Linked DNA regions of Homo sapiens. The protein of the gene in region 2 purifies or fractionates together with the protein of the main gene of each other region. This does not show direct contact. Each region holds a gene or a part of one and is shown on either strand. Other genes may lie near its edges. The genes, in order: S100A13 and SCRT2.

Region 1 (3,424 bases), on a different chromosome or scaffold from region 2:
AACGGACAAACTCCAAGAAAAAAGAAGCAGAGCAGGACCATGCAGCTGAGCCCGAGTCACCTCTCCTGCCCCACATCTCTGCCCCTACTTTTCTTTTTTCTTTTTGTTTTGTTTTGTTTTTTGTTTTTGAGATGGAGTTTTGCTCCTATCGCCCAGGCTGGAGTGCAATGGTGCGATCTCGGCTCACTGCAAACTCCTCCTCCTGGGTTCAAGTGATTCTCCTGCCTCAGCCTCCTGAGTAGCTGGGATTACAGGCACCAGCCCAGCTAATTTTTGTATTTTTAATAGAGATGAGGTTTAGCCATGTTGGCCAAGCTGGTCTCGAACTCCTGACCTCAAGTGATCCACCCACCTCAGCCTCCCAAAGTGCTAGGATTACAGGCGTGAGCCACTGTGCCCAGCCCTCTGCCTCTACTTTTCATATATTCATTCAACCATTTATTGGGCACCTGCTCTGTACAAGACCTGGTGCTAGATGCTGCGGAATTCAAAGATGAATAACATTCCCTGTCCTCAAGGGGCTCATAATTTTCAGATCCATCCTCAGGTCAAGAGAGAGCTTTCCCACTCTCTGGTCTCAAGAAAAGAAATCAGGATGGGGTGTAAGTAAGAAACATTTGTGTTTCAAGGAGGAAGCTTTATTTGGGAAGAGTGCGGTTCTGCTCGGCCCTGATCAGCTCTGCCCTGCCCACCCCATCTCAGCCAGGCGGCTTTACTTCTTCCTGATCTTCAGGTCTTTCTTCTTCCTGATTTCCTTGGCCAGCTCCCCAATCAATCTCCAGTACTCATTGAACTTGAGCTCCGAGTCCTGATTCACATCCAAGCTCTTCATCTTCTCATCAAGAGAGCCCACATCCTGAGGAGACACCAAAGGGAAGGGTAGAGTTAGAAACTGGGGTTCTTGAGAAAGTAGGGAGGGAAGAACTGTCAGCTGCTATTCTCTCAAGGCCCTTCCCTCAGAGAGCAGTGGCACCTGCCCCTTCTCTAAAGAAGGAGGCTGCAGCCCCAAAACTGCACCGCCACGGGGTGCCTCTCCAAGGAGCACCAGCAGAGAAAGGTGGGGGGGCCTGAGTCCTAGTGCTTGCCGTTGTGTAAATACTTCCACGATGGCTGCTTACAAACCACAAACAGGTTGTCGCTGAATACAAAGCTGGAAAGAAATCCACACAATCTTCTCTCACCAGCACACCACTGCAGCTGCTGTGGGATCGGCCCAAGGAATGCCAGCATCTCAGGGAGATGCTGCAGGGTTGGACCCAGTCAGAGCCTTCTGGGGCCACCCTCCTCTTTCTCAGAAAGCTGGAGAAGCTCCCAGTACTTAGCTGCTCATTTGCACAACCCTTGTGTCTTTTCATTTATCCAGCTGGGTCACTAGATCAGGGGAATGGCAAGGGCATGGAGTATCTGGGTTTTTAGGGGCCCTTGACAGGGTATCTCTCATAGGCCTGTGAAATCAATGGCAACAGTAAACTGGATGTCCTGATCGAAGGACCTGTTGCCAGATAAACAAGCACAACCAAAAAGTTGACTGTTGAACAATAGTTCAACATCAAACCAGAGAAGGGTGCCTCAGGCAGGGTGTGAGGCTCAAGGTTTGAACCAACATTTGGATGCAGACAGAGAAGACTCACTGAATCTCTAAAGGGAACAAAGCTGATTCACAGAAGAACTAAAAAAGACTTTTTTTTAAGTTACAACCACGTTTAATTATAAAATACTATAAGCACTGCCAGTGGAAGGCAAGGATGGCTACTGTAACATTATATTGGGGGTGCATTCAATCAGTAAAGAGAAATAAATAAGTATTAAGAAAGAAGAAGCAGGAAGGGTGCGGTGGCTCACGCCTGTAATCTCAACGCTTTGGGAGGCTGAGGTGGGCGGATCACTTGAGGTCAGGAGTTTGAGACCAGCCTGGCCAACATGGTGAAACCCTGCCTCTACTAAAAATACAAAAATTAGCCAGATATGGTGGTGGGAGCCTGTAATCCCAGCTACTCGGTAGGCTGAGACAGGAGAATTGCTTGAACCTGGGAGGCGGAGGTTGTGGTGAGCAGAGATCGCGCCATTGCACTCCAGTCTGGGCTACAGAGTGGGACTCTGTCTCAAAAAAAGAAAAAAAAATACAAAAATTAGCTCGGTGTGATAGTGCACACCCGTAGTCCCAACTACTTGGGAGGCTGAATCAGAAGAATCGCTTGAGTGTGGGAGGCAGAGGCTGTAGTGAGCCGAGATCAAGCCACTGCCCTCCAGCCTGGGTGACAGAGTGAGACTATCTAAAAAAAAAAAAAAAAAGAGCTGTGACAGAAACAAAACAAAGGCCAAATACCAAATACCATACCAGTATCAGTGGGTTCCACAGCCCTGGATTCAACCAACCTAGAACCAAAAATATTTGAAGAAAAAAATCCACAAAGTTCCAAAAAGCAAAACTTAAATTTTGCCCCATGCTAAGTACTAAGTTGAATCCATGTGAATGAAGTGATGAGTAGGCACTGCATTATGTATTACAAGTAACCTAGAGTTACTTGTAATTTAAAGTATACAGGAGGATGTGCATAGGTTATATGCAAGTACTATCTGATTTTATATAAGGGATTTGAGGCCAGGCATGGTGGCTCACACCTGCAATCTCAGCACTTTGGGGAGGCCAAGGTGAGAGGATCGCTTGAGCCCAGGAGTTCAAGACCAGCCAGGGCAACATTGTGAGACACCCATCTCTACAAGAAAAGGACAAAAAAAGGTAATTGAGCATCCAAGGATTTTGGCATCCAAGGGGGTTCTGGGAACAATTCCCATGGATACAAAATGACAACTATATATTTCATATTATACCACAGGGATATTAAAAAAAACCTTGAATAAATAGAAAATGGAATAAACATATATTTTTCTTAAAGAGAAAGGCTCAATCAGCTAAAAATGTTGATTTTCCCTAAAATATATCTTTTATATGATCCCAATTAAACTATCTACAGGATTTTTTTTTTTTTTTGAGATGGAGTCTTACTCTGTCGCCCAGGCTGGCGTGCAGTAGTATGATCTCAGCTCACTGCAACCCCCACCTTCTGGGTTCAAGCAATTCTCCTGCCTCAGCCTCCCGAGGAGCTGGGATTATAGGCACCCACCACCACGCCTTGCTAATTTTTCTATTTTTAGTAGAGATGGGGTTTCACCATGTTTGCCAGGCTAGTCTCAAACTCCTGACCTCAGGTGATCCACCCACCTCAGCCTCCAAAAGGTCTGGGATTACAGGCATGAGCCACCACGCCCGGCCTACAGGATTCTTTTTAACATTATAAAATGTTACTGGCTGGGCATGGTGGCTCATGCCTGTAATCCCAGAACTTTGGGAGGCCAAGGCGGGTGGATAACTCGAGGTCAGGCGTTCAAGACCAGCCTGGCCAACGTGATGAAACCCCATCTC
Region 2 (3,820 bases):
TTGAGTGATTGGTGGGTGGGCAGGCTGGGGTCTCCCTGGGGATTCCGTAGGGGATTCTCATGGGCAGGGGCCATTCTGATTTGCCTCTGCCTCCCATGGCCTAGGCTGGTCCTAGCACCTTCCCTGAGACCCTGGGGGCTGGGCTCCCTGGAGAGTTTCTGGCAGACAAACTTTTCATCCTGGCACTTGATGGGCAAGTGATTCCATTGTTCTGTGATTCCACAGAACAATGAAGGTTAGGTCCGTTTGGGAGGTTTCCCACCTGGGGAGTGGGATTTGACCTTCTCCTGGTGACCCCTGAGACCTGTAACCACTCCTCCTTCCCTCCTCCCCTAGCCTCCTTCACTGAAGTGAGCAGGTGGAGGAGGGTTTTGTAAGGGGAAACAGGGTTCAAGATGTTCAGACTTTTAGCTGGGTACTCTGGTCAGCTTTCGTTTCCCACACAGCCTGGCTGATTCAGCCTCCAGGCCTTTGCCTCTCATCTGGAGTTTGGGATGGACACAGGGTGAAGTCTGTGTGCCCCTGAAGGCAAGGGTGTGCCCTTATTTTTACCTCTGTCCCTTCAGCAGCCAGCACAGGGCCCTCTGCACACAGAAGTCATTGTGGATTATGGAAGTGGATGACTCGGAAGCGGGGGGCTCTGTGGTTGGATGTAAAGGGGGATAGTGATAGTGGCAATTTTTTAATCTGGGGAGAGGAGATGCCCAGCCTCTCCGCACCCTATGTCTCCCGTCCCATCTGCCTGTGGTCTGGAGGTCCCCCTGCTTCCCACTCCGGGAACCAGGCCTGGTACTCAGGTCCCAGAACATTCAGGAGTGTTGTTTCAGACTGAGTTAAATACCCGTCAGGCACTCCCAGACCCCCCTCCTTCTCCTTCTGTATTTCCTCACGTTGTAATTCCTGGTGATGATAATAATAGCTAATATTCACTGAGCACTTACTGTGTGCACCAGGCTCTGTGCTAAGTGCTTCGCTCCCATCATCTCACTGAATCATCACAAAACTACTCTCATCACAGATAAGGAAACTGAGGGACAGTGTGGTGATGGCACTTGCTCCAGGGGTGGAGCAAGGATTGGAATCCACTGCCCCCTTGGTTTCCCACATACTGGGAGGTCCTCCAGGAGGGGGCTGTGGCTGAGCTGTTCACCTCCCATTCCCAGGGCCCTAGCTAGTGGGCACTTAATAAGTATTTGTGGAATGAGTGATGATGATTTGCGAGGCCAGCCTCACTCCCCAGCCTAGCAGGACCTGGTATAGACAGTCCTGTTCACCTGGTCTCAGGGCAGGTCTGCATCTCATGTGTCTGGGGCCATGGAAGGGGAAGGGTGGTTTGGTTCTCCAACACAGATTCCAGCTGAGTGCCTTTGGGTGGGTTGTGCTTCAGGTCCTTTTTTTTTAAAATGGGATTTATCTGGAGGGGTGACTGATCACGTAACCAGTGCTTTGAGTTCTATTATTAAAGGATGACATATTGGATAAGAGTAAAACTTTGGTGCCAGACGGCCTGGATTGTTTTGGCTCTACCATTCCCAGCAGTGTGACCTTGGCCAAACGATTTGGCCTCTGTGTGACTCTACCGTTTCAGTAAGGGGTCTGCCAGTAAACAGTATATAAACAAATGATAACCAGCACTCTCAGAGCACTCCTGTGTCAGGCACTCTTACAAGGGCTTTCCACACATGAAAGCATTCTACCCCCATGACACACAAGGTGGTAGGTACCCTTTTATAGAAGAGGAAACCAAGGCACAAGGAAGCTAAGTAACAAGCCTAAGATTGTGCAGCTGATAAGTTAGAGCCAGGATTCCAGCTCAGTGGCTGGCACATTTTAAATCCACCACGCATGTTGGCTGTTATTATGAACAATAATAACAATCTCCCCAGATGGGTTTCTGTGCTGCAGCTTTCTTGGCATCTGCCCCAACACATCGTGCTGCTCCTCTCTGGGCCTCTGTTTCCTCACCCGGGATGTGTAATTTCTATTTCACGTTCTGATGGGAAAATATCTGGTGCATAGTAGGAGCTCCATCAGTGAACCAGAGCGTTCTCCATGAGGTGCTCTGCCCATGGCGCCCTCTGCTGGTGGCCCTCAGCGCTGTTGACTTTCCTCCTGTTGCAAGGGGCTCTTTATGAAGAAATAGGGGTGCCTTCAACAAAGGCTGCTCATTTGCCTAGGGAGGGCTGCAGAAGTGTCTTCAGGATAGGAATTGTGAGCCCAGACCAGACACCCAGTCAGTGGATTTTGGCATGGGTTGAGAGCATCCTGTGAGAGTTTGTGTGGTCATGTTAGGAGGAGGTGGTTCTAACTTGCTTTGTGACTGTGGCCAGGTTGCTTAACCTTTCTGGGCGGAATCTATACATGACAAAGATGGACTGGAATGGTCTAAAGACCCTTTCTGCATCATGGCTGAATCAGTCCCTCCATGATGCTCTTTGTCCCCTCCACTCCCAGCTCCTCCAATTCCACCCCGTTTTCCTCAGATTCACAGACATCTCCCTAGGCAACCTTGGGCAAGTTACTTAACATCTTTCTGCCACACCTGTATAAGGGAGTTCATAATAAGGCTGAATAAATGAATGCATGTAAAGTGCTTAGGACAATGCCTGACACATAATAGCTGCCCTCTTGAGCTGTTATTATTGTTACTGGTAGTATTCCTGTGTTTCCTGGTGATATATCCTTCTAATCTGCCAGAGAGTAGGAGATACACATGGGTGTCTTAGGCTGCTGTGTGACCTTGAGCAAACCACCTCACCTCTCTGAGCCTCAACCCTGGAGACTCCTTTAGGACACTAAAAGCCATACTTTAACCTAATGCATGGAACCCAGACAGGTACCTTCCTCTGCCCTAAGAGTGACTATAGAAGGCTGAGATACCTATCCTGCAACTGACAGGGTGAGACAGGACTCTTGTTTGGGTTCCCACAGAGATAGGGATGAGCTGGGATTCAGAGAAAAGAGAATCTCAGGTGAGATCTCTCATCCTAGCCCTTGAATTCAGGCCGTAGCCATGTGACCTTGGGTAAGTCGCATAACTTATCTGGGCTCAAATCCTCCATTTGAGGAATGTGGACCAGAGGCACCCCTGTCATGTAGGGATATGGGGAGGGCCCAGAAATACTTTGGAGATGTGCACATGTCACCTGGAAATGACTTTGGTTTTCCCTGCCCAAGAGTCTTGATATTTTAGACTGAAGGTCCAGAATCTGTCTTTTTAAAAATCGGTACTCAAAGGAGTGGTGAAAGGGAAATTTATGAGAACTAAGGTGCTGGGCCCTCTGCAGACACTGTCTCATTTAGCTGCCTGACCCCCTGCGGGGATGGAGGGGGATGTGTAACAAATACTGCTACTGCTACTGCTGGTGCTTCCAACTAGCACCAGCCTCCCTGTGAGCCAGACATTGCCCTGTGCCCAGAGGCCCAGAGAGGGGAGAGGATTTGCCCAAGGTCACTGAGAGGGAGGCGGCAGGTTTGAAACCCTCCAAGGCCTGTGTTTTTTCCAAAACACCAGAGAGGGCATGGAGACTTGCTGGGGAAGAGATCTTCAATTGGTAGGGGAAGGGGTGGTGCGTTTCCTCAAACACTCCCTAGTTAGCCTGTGGTGGGGTGGGTGGGGGCACGGGGTGGTGGGGGCATGGAGAAGCTGTTGTGGAAAATGCTTCAGCCTCTTGTAAGTATTTGTAAATCATACTTAATAACAGTAATGCCTATCACTTACTGAGCACTTACTTGGTGCAAGGCATCCTGCTAAATGCTTTGTGCACATTAGCTCATGTCTAAGGTCACTTCCCTCCATGCCCTTGTTCTGCAGAAGCTG

What was found.
Region 1: the proteins of SCRT2 (region 2) and S100A13 purify together in Homo sapiens (affinity purification with mass spectrometry; one large-scale study listed by BioGRID and IntAct). This does not show direct contact.

The regions. Positions count from the first base shown.
Region 1 is NC_000001.11:153,618,183-153,621,606, forward strand, and holds the end of S100A13 (protein S100-A13), read right to left. Parts: intron 857-3,424; coding exon 713-856; 3' UTR 617-712; downstream 1-616. UniProt on the Homo sapiens protein: Plays a role in the export of proteins that lack a signal peptide and are secreted by an alternative pathway. Binds two calcium ions per subunit. Binds one copper ion. Binding of one copper ion does not interfere with calcium binding.
Region 2 is NC_000020.11:665,524-669,343, forward strand, and holds part of SCRT2 (transcriptional repressor scratch 2), read right to left. Parts: intron 1-3,820. UniProt on the Homo sapiens protein: May be involved in transcriptional regulation.